Regions from separate parts of the Homo sapiens genome. Here region 2 is linked to region 1. The links come from fine-mapping of genetic effects on gene expression. A gene starts in region 1. The other region holds a variant in brackets. All regions are shown on one strand. Distances are from middle to middle.

Region 1 (8,337 bases):
CCAATTTTAAGTGTACAGCCCTATGGCATTAAGTACGTTCACACTGTCATGCAACCGTTACCACCAGCCACCTCCAGAAATTTTCATTTTCCCAACCTGAAGTTCTGTACCTATTAAATGACAACTCCTGGTTTCTCTCTCCCCCAACCCCTGGAAACTACCATTCTGCTTTCTGTCTCTCTGAGTTTGACTATTCTAGGTAGCTTATATAAGCGGAATCATACAGTACTTGTTCTTTTGTAACTGGCTTTTTTTCTCTTAGCACAATGTCTTCAAGGTAAAACTGTGTTATAGCATGTATCAGAATTTCCTTCTTTTTTTTTTGAGACGGAGTTTTGCTCTTGTCACCCAGGCTGGAGTGCAATGGCATGATCTTGACTCACTGCAACCTCCGCCTCCCAGGTTCAAGCAATTCTCTTGCCTCAGCCTCCCGAGTAGCTGGGATTACAGGAGCGCACCACCACGCCTAGCTAATTTTTGTATTTTTAGTAGCGATGGGGTTTCACCATGTTGGCCAGGCTGGTCTCGAACTCCTGACCTCGGGTGATCTGCCTGTCTTGGCCTCCCACAGTGTTGAGATTACAGGCGTGAGCCACCGTGCTGGGCCTTGAATTTCCTTCATTTTTTAAGGCTGAATATTCCATTGTACCACATTTTGTTTATCCATTCATCCATCAATGGACATTTGGGTTGCTGCCACCTTTTAACGATTGTGAGTAACACTGTTCTGAACATGCATGTTCAAGTCTCTGCTTTCAGTTCTTTTGGCTACATACACATACGTGAACTTGCTAGATCATATGGCAATTCTATGCTTAGTTTTTTGAGGAACTGCCAAATAGTTTCCCACAATCTTTTAAAAATCATTTTATTGGTAGTATAATAATTCATTTGTCTCTATACCCTAATTTACTAAGCATTCTGGAATGTTTGCTTCCTAAGTTTTCTTTTTTCCAATTGGGTGGGAATTAGTTTTAATTTAGACAATGCTCCAGGTTTTTGCCCCGTTTTAAAAGTACCTCATAAACATATATTATTCCTTCTAATAGCTGATAATTCACGTTGTTTTTTTTTTTTTTTTTTTTTTTTTTTTTTTTGCTTAGTGCTACCTCACAATTATCCCTTATCTAAGAAGTGCCCTGTCCATGGGAGCGAGTACCCTCTAGCTAGACCTATGCTTTCCAATATGGTAGCCACTAGCCACATACTTAAACATGAGTCAATTAAAGTAAAATAAAATTGGAAATTATCTTCCTCAGCTGCCCTAGCCGTATTTCAAGTGCACAGTAGCCACACAGGGCTAGTGCTACTGAATTGGGCCGCACAGATTCAGAACATTTCCATGACCCCAGAAAGTTCTATGGTGACTACTGCTCTAGACTATTTTTGACTCTGACCTCTTGGCCATGGCTGAATTCATTTCTATAAGTTACTCCCAGAAACTATTTAGTCCTCAGGGACAATCTGATGATAACATTTACAGGAGAACACCAGAAACTTTAGATTATGAAATATCTCTTCCAATGACTGAAGTACTCCTGACCACTATTTCCTATCAGTCTTTTGAGAACCAAATTAGTGGTCAGTTTCTTGGTGATGGTCACCTAATCCAAGCTGGGTCAATGAAATTCCTTATTTCTTTCCTTGGGAATTTGGATTTGGGAAGGAAGAGGTCGTCATTCAGGTCCTCAAGTTGTCTAGAACTATAAAACCAAAAGTAATAGATTCCACTAGATAAAACAGAGAATTGGGTAAAGCAATAGAAAAATTAAGCAGATAAGCAGAGATTACATTGCCTCTTAGGTTTTCTATTTTGGTTCAAGTCCCTCCCTTGGACTCAGCTACATTTCTGACTTTTGGTTACATGAGAAAAACCTGTACTGTAATAATGAATTATTATTTTATGCTTAAACTAGCTCAAATTGGCTGGTTATACTGGCAATCAGAATCCTAGCGTACATACATACACACACACACACAGACACACACACACGGGTACTGTTTTCACACTCTGTATGTAGTTGTGTATAAATTTTGTATATAGTCATTGCACTGGAACCCCAGGCTCCCCTCTAACCCTTCTCTTGCTTTATCGCCTTCTTATATTAAGATTGTGTTTAGGCTGGGCGAGGTGGCTCATGCCTGTAATCCCAGCACTTTGGGAGGCCGAGGAGGGTGAATCACTGGAGGTCAGGAGTTTGAGATCAGCCTGGCCAACATGGTGAAACCCCGTCTCTACTAAAAATACAAAAATTAGCCGAACGTGGCGTCGGTTGCCTGTAGTCCTAGCTACTTGGGAGGTTAAGGCAGGAGAATCGCTTGAACCCGGAAGGCGGAGGTTGCGGTGAGCCGAGATCGCGTCATTGCACTCCAGCCTGGGCGACAAGAGCAAAACTCAGTCTCAAAAAATAAATAAATAAAAAATAAAAGCCGGGCGCGGCTATAATCCCAGCACTTTGGGAGGCCAAGGCAAGCGGATCACAAGGTCAGGAGATCAAGACCATCCTGGCCAACATGGTGAAACCCCATCTCTACTAAAAATACAAAAATTAGCTGGGTGTGGTGGCACGTGCCTGTAATCCCCGCTACTCAGGAGGCTGAGGCACGAGAATCGCTTGAACCCAGAAGGTGGAGGTTGCAGTGAGCCGAGATCGTGCCACTGCACTCCAGCCTGGCTACAGAGCGAGACTCCGTCCAGCCCCGCCCCAACACCCCGCAAAAAAAAAGATTGTGTTTAGGCTGCTCTCTGTATCTTCCCCCTCTGCTTACCCTGATCAAACTATGCCCTCTGTTACCATTCTGAATGCGGAAGCTTTATTAAATCAAATTGTGAAGCATGTTAACCACTGATTTTATCCTTTAGCTTGTATTGCATTTTAATTTCTCAGGCCTAAGTAATTCCATCAACACTCATTTCATGTATGACCTAATAAATAATCCCTCACAGGCCAAAGCAGCGCCTTTTTTTTCCGTTCTTTTCTTTTTTGTTTCTCTTTTTGAGACAGAGCTTCACTCTTGTTGCCCCGGCTGGAGTGCAGTCACGCGATCTCGGCACGCTGCAACCTCCGCCTCCCGGGTTCAAGCGAATCTCCTGCCTCGGCCTCCCGAGTAGCTGGGACTACAAGGGCGTGCCACCACGCCTGGCTACTTTTTTTGTATTTTTAGTACAGACGGGATTTCACCATGTTGGCCAGGCTGGTCTCGAACTCCTAACCTCAGGTGATCCACCCGCCTCGGTCTCCCAAAGTGCTCGGATTACAGGCGAGAGCCACCACACCCGGCCTCAAAGCAGTGACTTCTGATTGTGAGAACCTGGCATGCACAGAACTGAGTGCAGTACTTTCTCAAGCCACAGTAAATGCTCCTTTAGATGGAGTGATTAGGGGACCTCTTTCAGGAAGATTGAAGGAGGAGGAGTCAGCTATGGAAAGGACAAGAGCAACAGCACCCTGTGTGAAGAGACACAATTGTCCTACCTATGAAAACACTGCTTCTTGTCAAGTAACAGAAAGGCCAGTGTGGCAGGAGGAGAGTCAGGGAGCAAGGGAAGGTGGTGTGAGCTGCGGCAGGCTGGGCTGGGCCTTCAGGCCATGGTGAGAAGTTATGATGGTATCAAATGGGCAATGAGAAAGTATTTAAGGGATTTAAGTAAGGGAGTGACCTGATCTGATTTATCTAAGAAAAACATCCCTCGGCTACTGTCTGGAAATGAACTGTAGGAAGACAAGCAAGGGACCAGTTAGGAGGCTACTGCAAGTGTCAGTAAAAGATCATGGCTAGGCCTGAAGATGGGAGACGGTGGAGAAATCTGTGACAGAATTTGAGATTTTGAAAGTAAATATAAAAGCACTTGGTGAGTTATCCCTGTTACCTTCTCAGTAGCCAGGCCCTATACTAAAGCTGCCAATGAAGTAGAATGAAGGCTCTGAAACCTCAAGAAGGGCCTTACTTTCCCAGTTTCACGGGGCTCTGCGCACAGCTCTTAGGAACTACCTTGATTCCAAAACTCTCCAAAAGTACGATCCTGCCCTTATGTTCCTCTCTCCCTTTGAGTGAATTTGGGAATGATTGTTGAAAAATGACTTTCAACAAGAGGACAGCAGTGTTCGGGGTTCCACGATACATCCCTATCTTTTAACATCGATAAGTATTTTTAAATTGGTACCTTATTTTGCGCTGCACGAGAGAGAAGGCTTTTTACTAGCAGCATCTCCTAATCCATCTAAGAAATACTGTATTTACCTTTACTCCAAGTATCCTAGGGCAAAATTCCTTTAGAACAATTCATCTTCCGAAACAGACGGGTTCCCTTTTCACCTATTCAAGTGTTGTGCATTCTAGGGTCCCCTTCCCGCCTTGCAGACAAATGCGCTCATTGTGCCACTCCAGTCCCTGGATCCTATGCAGCGGGCATTTCCTGCAAGGAGCTGCTGCATGCCTGTTTCCCTCGCCGCCTGCCCCAACCCGAATCCAAGGCTTTGGTTTCTAATGTTCCCTCCCTGTGCAGTTAAAACAATTGAGTTCAGTTACTAAATAGATGACCAGGAACTTTTTCTTGGCGAAGGCTGCGGATGTTTAGGGCACTGTCCAGTAAAGTTGTGAAAAGCAACTAAACCCTGCCGCTTGTGCAAAAGGACCAATCCACCGGGAAACAAGGGAAACGCGCACATTTCCTCAACTTGCCGCTTCTTGGGCACGTTTAGGCTCTTATTAGAGCCGCGCTTTGGAGTTGCCTCCTCCTGCTGTACAAACCCGCCGCGGCGTTCCCCCGGATGCCGCAGCGCTCACTCCCGCGTCCGCGGGGCGCGGGGAGGGGGCGAGGCGCGGGCGGCCCCGGAGCCAAGGCGAGGGCAGCGGAGCCCAGCCGGGCCTACGGGCGGCGACGCTCTGGCCCCAGCGCGCTCGATGGTTTCCGCGCGGCCGCCGGGGCTCGCACGGTCCAGTCGCCAGGGGGCGCGCTAGCCGGCGCCGCGGATCCCCGAACTGCGCGGCCCGACTCGAGTCCGCCATATTGGATGCCGCAGCCGCTGCTGCCAGCGCTTCCTCCTCTGTCTTCGCCGAGCGGGGCTGGTTCCTGCGGCCCGAGCGGCGGGGAGGTGAAACAGGAGCCCGTCGGAGGAAGGGGCAGAAGGGAGTGGAGAGTGTAGGGGAAGGGGCTAGAGGGAGGGGGACCGAAACGGAGCGGGGCAGAGAAGAGAAGGCGCCGCGGCCCAGCCCCTCCCCCGCCCGCCGCCGACCCGCCCCGGCAGCGCCTCTGTTCCCTAGAACGGCGCTCCCCCCGCCCTAGCGGCCATGCCGGTGCCGCTCTGCCGCTGAGGGAGCCCTTCCCCGCCAGCGCGTGCCCTTCCACTCCGCCCCGAGGTCGCAGCGGCCCGCTCTCCCGCCAGCGCCCCCTCCTCGCGGCCACGCAGCAGCCCGCGTCTCGCTCTCCCCACCCAGTGCAGTGGCCGCCGCCTCTTCCGCCGCCGGGCTCGGGGCCTCCGCAGCGACAACATGGAGGCCGTGAAGACCTTCAATAGCGAGGTTGGTATGGCAGCCGGGTTCCCCTGCTCCTGCCCGCACCGCCCCCACCCCTGGTCGAGGCCGGGGCCCGGAGGGTGGGCGCGGGCCTGCGGGTTTTTTAAGGGTGGGGTGAGCGGTGGCCTAGCAGTGCCCGTGGGGGAGGGGTGTTTCTCCTCTGGGTGCCCCTCCCCCGGGTCCGGGAGGAGGGTTGGGGGAGGGCCGCCCTGGGGCGGAGGGAGGTTCTGGCGTCTCCGGCGTCCTATGGAATGGCTGCGAGCTCGGAGGGAAAGACCCGGTTGGGCCCTCACCCGGAGACTCCCGACAGGTCCCTCGAGGTCAGTTCCGCCGAGGCCTGGCCCGCCCACCTCCTTCCTGGGCCTTTGAGGATTTAAGTGGACGCTGGACATGACTCTCCAGACCTTCCCGGGTCCTCACTGAGGCTAACACCGATTGGGGGCGGTGGGGGAAATGAACCTACGGGGTGTTGATCTGTGGTCACGTTACACGTAGTGTTTATAATTGAGGCATTGTTGACTAGGTAATTTGCCAGCTAGGGACTTGAGCTAATTGGATGGTTGGTAGGCAGGCAAAGGTTATTCTGCAATATCTTTTATTTTTACTCGCTCCTCTTCTAATCCATCACGACATAAAGACAAATGGTAGGGAGAGATCTGTGCATCGAGAGATGGAAGATTATGGGGGAAACATTTCTCGCTGGTTCATTCACGTGTCAAACAAGATTTTAAAAAGCAGATTCCATTTTCACTGTGTAGTTGAATTTACTAGTCTGGAAGAAGACAGGTTTTGATGTATTCAATTTCTTTTTAAACTCCGACTTCAATAGGCCTTAATGTAAACATCAAACATAGCAAGTACACATCTGCACAGTCAGCATTAGTATCCCTACCCGTACGCCTTGGAAAGTGTAATTATGGCCGGGAACAGTGGCTCAGGCCTGTAATCCCAGCACTTTGGGAGGCCGAGGCGGGCCAATCACGAGGTCAGGAGTTCAAGACCAGCCTGGCCAACGTGGTGAAACCCTGTCTCTACTAAAAATACAAAAAATTAGCTGGGCGTAGTGGCAGGCACCTGTAATCCCAGCTACTTAGGAGGCTGAGGCAGGAGAATCGCTTGAACCTGGGAAGCGGAGGTTGCAGTGAGCCGAGATCTGCGCCACTGCAATCCAGCCCAGTGACAGAGTGAGACTCTGTCTACAAAAAAAAAAAAAAGAAAAAGAAAAAGTGTAATTATGCTGGTAACTAAATTAGCATAAATTTTATGAACTCTTAAAGTGCCAATACTTTATTCGATACTATGATTGTTAAAGAGTATCTTTAATATTTACCTCTTAAAATACGAGGCTTTTTGCTGTGACGGCCCAAATAGGACAGTACTTTTAAATGCCGTTGCATAGTTTTATCTTGTTTTAATTTCTTTAAAAAGAAAAACAGTATTTGGGAATCTTAGCTAAGAGGCTAAACGGTAGATAATATTTGGGCTATTTTCAATAGCAGTGATACATAACTTTTTTTGGAAAGCATTTTCTTTTTTAATACTACATTTTTTATTTTTAACATTGATAAATTAGAGCAATAGACTTGGGAATCTTCTTTTTTTTTTTTTTTTGAGACAGAGTTTCGCTCTTGTTACCCAGGCTGGAGTGTCACCATCTCAGCTCACTGTAGCCTCCACCTCCCGGTTTCAAGCGATTCTTCTGCCTCAGTGTCCCGAGTAGCTGGGATTACAGGCGCACATCACCACGCCCCGCTAATTTTTGTATTTTTAGTAGAGATGGGGTTTCACCATGTTGGCCAGGCTGTTCTCAAACTCCTGACCTCAAGTGATCCACCCGCCTTGGCCTCCCAAAGTGCTGAGATTATGGGCGTGTGCCACTGCGCCTGGTGTTTCATTTTTTTTCATAGCTATCTTTCTTTTTTTGAGGAGTGTCATTCTGTCACCCAGGCTGGAGTGCAGTGGTGTGATCTTGGCTCACTGCATCCTTTGCCTCCCGGGCCCAAGGGGTCCTCCTCTCACCTCAGCCCCCCAAGTAGGTGAGATTACAGGCCAGTGTCACCATGCCCGTCATTTTTATTTTTTATAGAGAGGAGGTCTTGTTATGTTGCCCAGGCTGTTCTTGAACTCCTGGGCCCAAGCGGTCCTTTCACCTTGGCATCCCAAGTGCTGGGATGACAGATGTGAGCCACCACGCCTGGGGGATTTCGTTTTGTTTTGTTTTTTGCCCTCATTGGATTTAATTCCCGCCGCCACCCTCTTCCCCACACACACTTTGTTGGGTGTCTGTCTTTGGGGGGGTTCCTAATAATGTGGTCCTCCCCCTCAAAGGGCCATCCAAGACTTTTTTTTTTTTTTTTTTTTTGGAGACGGAGTTTTGCTCTTGTTGCCCAGGCTGGAGTGCAATGGCGAGATCTTGGCTCAATGCAACCTCCACCTCCTGGGTTCAAGCAATTCTCCTGCTTCAGCCTCCGGAGTAGCTGGGATTACAGGCACCCACCGCCATGCCCAGCTAGTTTTTTGTATTTTTAGTAGAGATGGGGTTTCATCACGTTGGCCAGGCTGGTCTCGAACTCCTGACCTCAGGTGATCCACCCGGCTCGGCCTCCCAAAGTGCTGGGATTACAGGCGTGAGCCACTGCGCCTGGCCCATCCATGACGTTTTAAACAGTAGCTCCCAAATATTAGATGTAAACAAGTGGTTAGTGCACTATGGTTGGTCACAGTAGGGAAGAAATGTTAATTCCAGTTTTTCGTTTTAATATTAATTAAGGATAAGGGGGCCTAACATTTACATGTGTAGATAGGTGTTTCACCTGTTTT
Region 2 (8,337 bases), 120 kb after region 1:
TGCAGGTCAGGTTGCAGTTAGAGATACATTTGAATGATGTCGCCCACATTGGTCTTTGGAATGTGGAATCTTTTTTTTTTTGTCCTTTCATTAGTACATGTAGCAGATCTGAAAGAGAATTCAGCTTGAATTTTCTCTGTTTGGAAGAGAATTGGTAATGTATCCAAAGCACTTCTCTTTTCATACTCAAGTTAACTTCAAATGGTTGTAGAGCCTACAGGGATTTTATTTAGCCATAATGAAACTGATTATGACCAACAGTTGGCTTCTAATAACAAATGTTACATTTTTGAAAATGTGCAGATTTTGAGGTTTATCACAGGTGAGAATCTGTCCTATCTGAGATTGTTGTTTCAGCATATTTTAGAGTGATACTCACGTTGAGATGCATTAGATCTCTTAAGGAAAATTGCTAAGTGCAAATTCAGTTCTGTGAGCTGCACATAAAGGTGCTTCAGTCACTTTGTGATTGTAGGAAAAAGAGAACTTTCTAGGGCATGGTTTTATAGTTTTATGTCTTTGGAGGTTTTTGGTTTGTTGTTACTGTTTTTAATGATTCCGCTCTGTCACCCAGGCTGGAGTGCAGTGGTACAATCATAGCTTGCTTCAGCCTTGAACTCCTGGGCTCAAGTGATCCTCCCACCTCAGCCTCTCAAGTAGCTGGGATTACAGGTGGGGGCCACTGTGCTGGCTGGGAGATATTTAAAGACATAAGTTTCTCTCAGATCACTTTCCTTGTTAATAATGCTGACAAATGCTAGGAGTTGTTATCTTACATCTGGTCTCTTCACTTTTATGAGTGCCATGGAACTCATAAGCTGTATTGTGAGCAAGTGTATTTTCAACCTTCTCAGGAAGTTTAAGATTGTTAAAACAAATTTTTAAGAAGTAAAGACTGTATTTAGAAGATAAAGTTGAAGGGAGATTCAATTAGTTACAACATCTTTGGATCCGTTGTTTCTTACAGTGTGCAGTAATTAAGCTTTCAGGACACAAGGTACAAATACTAGTAATAATACGGACTCATCTCCAAAAGTATAGGAAAGTTAATGTGACAGTGTTTCAAAGATGATGCCTAATTTTAAACACCAGATTATTTTTGTGTCTTAAAAATCAAAGTTTTGATTGTAATGGATAGGGTTTGGGGTAAATAAAATATAGAAGCCTTCCTATTGAAGACTTTACAAAATTATCATCAAATTGTATACTCTGGTTAAAAAAAGATAGATTCAATTTCTAACCTTAAAACTCTTCTTTGGGCAAACAAAAAGGTGGGTTCTCAGGGTCAGAACACTTTTCAGGATGACCCCATTTCTTAAGTTGTTGGAAATAATATTTTGATAAGGTCCTTCAGTTCCTTCTTCATGCCTCAGGTTCCTTTTGTGTACTGTTTTGTGGAGAGCCCATAAAGAGACGAGACATACACTTGCCTTTTAAGTCTGGGAGGAGGAAAAGTATTTCTGATACCCAGTTTTGCCTTCCCGTAGGTGAATTTCACCAAGTTACTTCAAAACTTTTCTACTCACCACAACACATGCCACCTTTACCATCTTACTCCCCTCCCAGCAGAGAAACTTGCCTCTTTTCCTTATGTAACTAGTAGATGGGACTATAGTAATTTGTTTCAGTAACCTCTCAACTCATTTAAATGATCTGGTCTCTGCCTCAAGACCAGTGGTTCTCAGCTAGAGTTGATTTTGCTTTTTCTCCGCCCAGGGGACAGTTAGCAGTTTTTGGAGACACTTTCTGGTTATCACAACTTGGTGTGGGGTACTGCTGGCATCCAGTGAATATTAGAGATTAGGGTGCTGCTAAATATTCTATAGCGCATAGGGTGGCACCACCCCATAACAAAGAACTGTCCCCAAATGTCCGGAGTGCCCAGGCTGGGAAACCTTGCTCTAGTTTTAGACATAACACGCTGTAGGTCCTGAGCAAATTTTTAATTATCCTGGTTCACTCAGAACACTGCATCATCAAATGTCTTCTCTTTCCTGTATTTTTTAATTTTTTATTATTATTTTTAGATGGAGTTTCACTCTCGTTGCCCAGGCTGGAGTGCAATGGTGCATCTCAGCTCACTGCAACCTCCGCCTCCTGGGTTCAAGTGATTCTCCTGCCTCAGCCTCCCGAGTAGCTGGGATTACAGGCATGCGCCACCACGCCTGGCTAATTTTGTGTTTTTAGTAGAGACGGGGTTTCTCCATGTTGGTCAGGCTGGTCTTGAACTCCCGACCTCAGGTGATCCGCCTGCCTCGGCCTTCCAAAGTGCTGGGATTACAGGCGTGAACCACCGCGCCCAGCCTTCCTGTATTTTTTTAAAACTCTCTCTCTTCACTGACACCAGGTGTTGCTATTAATGTGCTCAAATCTCTCACTTATAAAAAAGAATAAAACCTCTCTCTTTTCTAGTTACTGGTCTGTTTATTCTTTTGTAGAATGATCTTTGGGAAGAGTGTTTTCATTTATCCCAGTCTCTTCATCTTTTATTCCTTAGTGCACTGTCGTTGACTTTTGACCCCACCAATCCATTGAAATTTCTTTCCAAAGTCACTAGTGATCTATTGACCAAATCTAGCAGCCATTTTCATTGCTTATCTTACTTGATAGCACCACAGATTTAATGTTAGTGACTACTTTCTTGAAACTACTCCCTTGACTTTGCAGACCACTCTCCTGTGCCCATCGTCAGTGTTTCTTTTTTGAATTCTACAACTTCCCATGTGGTTCCATCTGTTCACACATGTTCATGCCCACATGAGCTCACTTAGGACCAACATACCAGTGAGTACACCATTGATACTCAGGTCTGCCTGACTTTCTACCTAGATAGCTTATAAGTATCTCAGGCTTAATCTCTATATTTTCTCTTCCTAATTCCCGCCAAAAATGTTTTCTCTTTTCCCAGTGGTTGACATTCCCATTCTTTCCATCTCCCAAGTTAGAGACTAGGAAACTATTCTCTTTTGCTCTCATCCCTTAGTAACAAAGTGGTTAGGATTTTTACTCACTAAACATAACTGAAATTTGCATTTCCATTGCCTTTGCCTTGGTTCAGTCCTGTTTTTTGCGGGGGACGGAATTTCGCTCTTGTTGCCCAGGCTAGAGTGCAGTGGCATGATCTTGGCTCACTGCAACCTTTGCCTTCCAGTTTCAAACGATTCTCCTGCCTCAGCCTCCCAAGTAGCTGGGATTACAGGCGCATGCCACCATGCCCAGCTAATTTTTGTATTTTTAGTAGAGATAGGGTTTCACCATGTTGGCCAGGCTGGTCTCGAACTCCTGACCTCGTGATCTGCCCACCTTGGCCTCCCAAAGTGTTGGATTACAGGCGTGAGCCACTACGCCCGGCCTTGATTCAGTCCTTCGTTGACAGTTCCAGTGGCTTCAAAACTATCTTCCAGGCTCAACACTGACAAACACAACTTCTGCAATGCTTACCAGAGTAATTTTTCCAGAATTTTCCTAGGTGAAGAGAGAGCGTAGCATCTGGAGCTTACGTTGCCAGAGTTTGAATTGAGGGCAAATCATTTTTCTTTTTGGTGCTTCAGAATTCTCAGTGGGAATGAACATGTTAGTACCAATTTTATAAGGTTGATGTAGAGTTAAGTGACTGAGTACATGTAAAGCTCTTGAAACAGTTTCTGGGTAAATAATGTTAGCTGCTATTAGTTTATACGATCATTAATGTTGTAATACACATCTGAACACACCTACCAAAAGTTCTTCATTTCTGTGGTAACCTACCAAATAAAATTTAAACTGCTTATTCTGACTTGCTGGACTCATCATGACCTAACTCTGTTTACTTTTCCAGTTTCTTATCTGATCTCTGCTGTAAATACGATGTGTTTCAGCAATTTGATACCCTTAGCAGTTCCTCCAGAGTGCTTTTACTGCTTGACTGTTTCTTCTCCCTGAAATGCTGTCCCCATCTATACCGTATAGACTCCTACTTGTTGACCTGTTTGCTTTTTTGATTTTAAGCAAATGAGCTCTTTGAGGACAGAGATCTTATTAATGCTTATGTCTGACTCATAGTACACATTTAGTAAAAATTTGTTGAAAGCATAAATGAACATTTAAAAAACGAGAAGAGACTGGGCACAGTACACTCCCAGCACTTTGGGAGGCTGAGGTAGGAAGATTGCTTAAGCCCAGGAGATCGAGACCAGCCTGAGCAACAACGTAAGACTCCATCTCTACAAAAAACCTAAAAATATTAGCCAGGTATGGTGGTGTGCCCTGGTGGTTCCAGCTACTTGGGAAGCTGAGGTAGGCAGATCACTTGAAGATCAGTTGAGCCCAGGAGGTCAAGGCTTCAGTGAGCTATGTTCACGCCTCTGCACTGCAGCCTGGGCGACAAAACGAGACCCTGTCTTTTTTTTTTTCTGAGACAGAGTCTCGTTCTGTTGCCCAAGCTGGAGTGCATGATCTCACCTCTCTGCAACCTCCGCCTCAGTACCAAGTAGCTGGGACCACAGGTGCTTGCCACCATGCCTGGCTAATTTTTTTTTTCTTTTTTTCTCTGAAGACGGGGTTTCACCATGTTGGCCAGACTGGTCTTGAACTCCTGACCTCAGGTTATCCACCTGCCTTGGCCTCCCGAAGTGCTGGGATTACAGGCGTGAGCCACTGCACCCAGCCCAAGACCCTGTCTTCAAAACAAAACCTAGAAGAATCAAACCACTGAAATCTGGAAAAATTAGTTACTTGCTACACAAAGCCTTGCACCAGCAACTTCAGCATCACTTGGAAGCTTATGATGCTCAGAATCTTAGGCTCCATCCCAGAGTCACCGAATCAGGATCTGCGTTTTTAAAAGATCCTCAAGTGATTCATAGGTGTGATAAAATTTAGTTGTAGTTCATTTATCTTTTCCCCAACAAACACAAGTTTTCATATATTCGAAGTCTTATTTTTGATGTTACTATAGATTAAAAGAATTTTGTAAATAAGCTTAGTGACAAGAAAAGTGAAACAAATTTAAAAATAGCAGTTAAACTGAATAATGATTTTGTTTCCTCCTAAGACAACAGTTAGCAGAAGTCATATGTACAGTTGTTTCTGAAGGTGAGATCATTTTTTAACTAGAGCTGCTCCATGGTGTATTTAAGAGTTTTATTTGATACCATCTCTGGTAATATTAGAGCCTTGAGAGCATGTCTC[A/G]TATGAATATTTTTATTTTGCCTATAGATTGAATTTCATGAAATGTTGAGGTGGAAGTCTGTGGATTAGGACTGAGGGAATACCTTCTTTGGTTCTTTCTGATTTTTTGACAGGCTTCCCTAAGTTTGTCCTAGGCCTCACTCTACCTTAGTAGATACTGGCAATGTGCCCATTAGGAGAGAATAGAATTCAGTAAAATGTGAAAGGTTTTTAAAAAGTGTCATTGATAAATAAGATGAAAAGATTGGAAACCATCAAAGCTTTATTACTTAAAAGTTAACGTAGGCACTATGTTCAGCTCAAGTACCTTAAGAGGTATGTCTTCGTGCTTACACATCAACATACAGAGGTTAATGTTGTTATATGGCACAACTTTTGTGTAGGAAATGTTTCAGTCACAGTATTAAAGTTTCTATTAAAATATTTCTAAAAATATGGGAAATGTGACATTTTAAATTAATGGGCCTGAAAAAAATAGCTTAAAGTTAAATGTTTTTATCGGATTATAAGAGTTCCAAGTTTCTTTCTAGATTATTTGAAATAGTTTACAAAATGCTATTTTAAACAGACTTTCAACCTGTTTCAAAACTCAAATATAGATGCCTGAGGGTTGAGAGAAAGAGAGTGTGTTACCACATGTTTATCATTGGAATGTAGAAACAAATTCATACTCAATTCAGCAAATACTTATTGAATAATATATATATTTCAGATGCCTTGATAAAAATTGGTGACAGTAGGTAATTGAGAAAGATATTACGTTATTGACAGAACACAGTTCCTGCCTTCAAGGAGTTTACCTTTTAGTGAGAAACAACCAGTAAATTCTATTTCAATATAATGTATGAATTGCTGTAACAGATTGGGTACGTAAGATACAGCTAGAACATAGAGAAAGGATGCTAGTTGCTAGATTTTCATTAGAAGATGCATTTTTGTTTCAGCAAATTAACTTCCTAAGTCTCAATATCCTCATCTATAAAACTAGAAATAAAAAGTACCTGGAAGACTCATTTTGAGGGTCAAATGAAAATACATGTGCAGTGCTTAGTACAATACATAAAACAGACTGCATAATAAATGTTGACTGCTGCTAATACTTAGTGGCCATTACTTAGGAAATCTTTCCTTCTGTCTTTGTGATTTCTGCTTCCCTTTCTTCTTTATTTATTTATTTTATTTTTAATATTCGTAGCCCTAGTCCATGGATTTGAAGGAAACATTGCTAAAATCATGGAGGTAAAATTTAGGTTTCTTTGGACATTTCTTTTCTCCTATTGTCCCTTCCCTGCCCACCCAACATGAATAACCCTAGTCTCCTCTTTAACTTTTGAAAGTTTCCGGAACAGTAATGGTAGGGTCCTTTTACAGCATGATGTCACGTGTTACTCAAGACTTGTACTGTCCAGTATGGTAGCCTTTAGTCACCTATTGCTATTTAAATTTATAAAAAATTAAAAATTCAGTTCCTCAGTCACACCAGTCACACTTAAATGCTCAACAGCCACATTAGCTAGTGCCTACCAAATTGAGCGGCACAAGTACAGAACATTTCCAGGAGGTCCTATTTTATAGCGTTACTCTAGAAGAGCAATTGCTGATAACATAGGCTGTTTACCTTAATTAAAATTATATGATTCAGAATTCTCTGTCCCAAACTATATTTAAATTTTTTTTTTTTTTTAATTCTCACTTCTGGTTAGTTTCCATTAAGGAGTTACCATGCTTCACAATGCTGATTCTTATTTTTATAAATATAAACTCTACATTGGTATTTCAATTTGTGTTTTAAGTCTTACTAAAATGTCTTGGGGTGTTTTTTTCAAATATAATTCAGTGAAGTTTTCAGACTCTTTTAAGTCACATCTTTAAAATGCTATTTCTGATTAAAGATAACGTAACATAATGTTGCGATAAATATGTATTCTGCTCTACAATAAATATATAGACTGCTTTACTCCCTTCTTTCTTCTTCAGTCTTTTATGTATTATATTTGCCTTTTCTGAGCAATTCAGCTTGCTTTTTCCAAATACAGTATTCAGTTAGGGTGTTTCATACACCAGCTGCCATTTACATCTATGTTATTACCTATGGCAGACACCTACACATGCTGACAGACAATTTTAAGTCAGTCAGTCCATCCTTAAGGTTACCAAAAGACCAGAAAGATTATCTACTGACTGCTGCTGGGCAGATTTTACACTGAGTTTGAAGTGTTCAGTTATATATAACATTCTGGCTCAGTTCGTCAAGAACTCATCCATAATTCTTCCTGGAAGTGTCCTCATGTGCAACTGTCAGGATCTTTCCAGAGAGACTTTTAAAAAAATTCTGTAACCCTAAAAATGATGTTTGCTACTTTTTGATTTGTTGCAATATAAACAGGTAATATTTACAGACAATATAAGTAAATACTGAGTTCCTTTTCATACTATGAACTACGTTATTGCTATGTTGACCTGTTGAGTTCACTGTATACTTTATGAAGCCATATTCTCAACAATATATCATGATATCAATGATCTTTAGTAATTAGTCTTTTATTCTGAAAGATTGGGCACCAGATCAGAGTTGAAGAGAAAGTGAATAAGCCTTTAATGTTTTAACAATATCTTGGAGTTTGAAAACACCATAGAGATCACTGGCTGTATTTTTTAGAAAAGAAAAAATTTAAAAGAAATTGTGACTTATAGTCATGGGCCTACGTAGCAGTTTTCTTTTTTAATGTATACTTTATTCCATATAAGTTGGTATATAATGTTTACAATTTACACATCTCTATAGAAATGCAATGAACAAATTTGAATTCAGAGAGACTCAAAGAGGGCCAGTTACTTCATGTCTCATTGTCTCAGTTTTTTTTTTTTTTAATGTAAAATGGGCCAATTATTGTGTTGAGCTTAAGTGTTTGTTTTGAAGACCTAAAGAGTAATGCATGGTACTAACACATGCCACAGCATGGTTGAATCTTGATGATACTGTGCTAAGTAAAAGAAGCCAGACACAGGCTGGACGCGGTGGCTCACGCCTGTAATCCCAGCACTTTGGGAGGCTGAAGTGGGTGGATCACTTGAGGTCAGGAGTTTGAGACCAGCCTGACCAACATGGTGGAACCCTGTCTTTACTAAAACTACAAAAAAATTAGCTGGGCGTGGTGGTGTGCGCCT

Evidence for each region.
Region 2: its variant is fine-mapped to the expression of SCAF8 in whole blood (TOPMed, PIP above 0.99).

What each region holds. Positions count from the first base shown.
Region 1 is chr6:154,728,408-154,736,744 of GRCh38, forward strand. It overlaps SCAF8 (SR-related CTD associated factor 8), which reads left to right and starts at 5,009. Exons shown (of 20, transcript NM_014892.5): 1 at 5,009-5,523. The coding sequence starts at 5,494. RefSeq lists silencers at 4,642-4,881, 4,912-5,031, 5,182-5,781 and an enhancer at 5,042-5,545.
Region 2 is chr6:154,849,011-154,857,347 of GRCh38, forward strand. MIR1273C (microRNA 1273c) reads left to right here and starts at 4,350; the gene lies at 4,350-4,426. The variant A/G (reference allele first, on the strand shown) is at 5,170.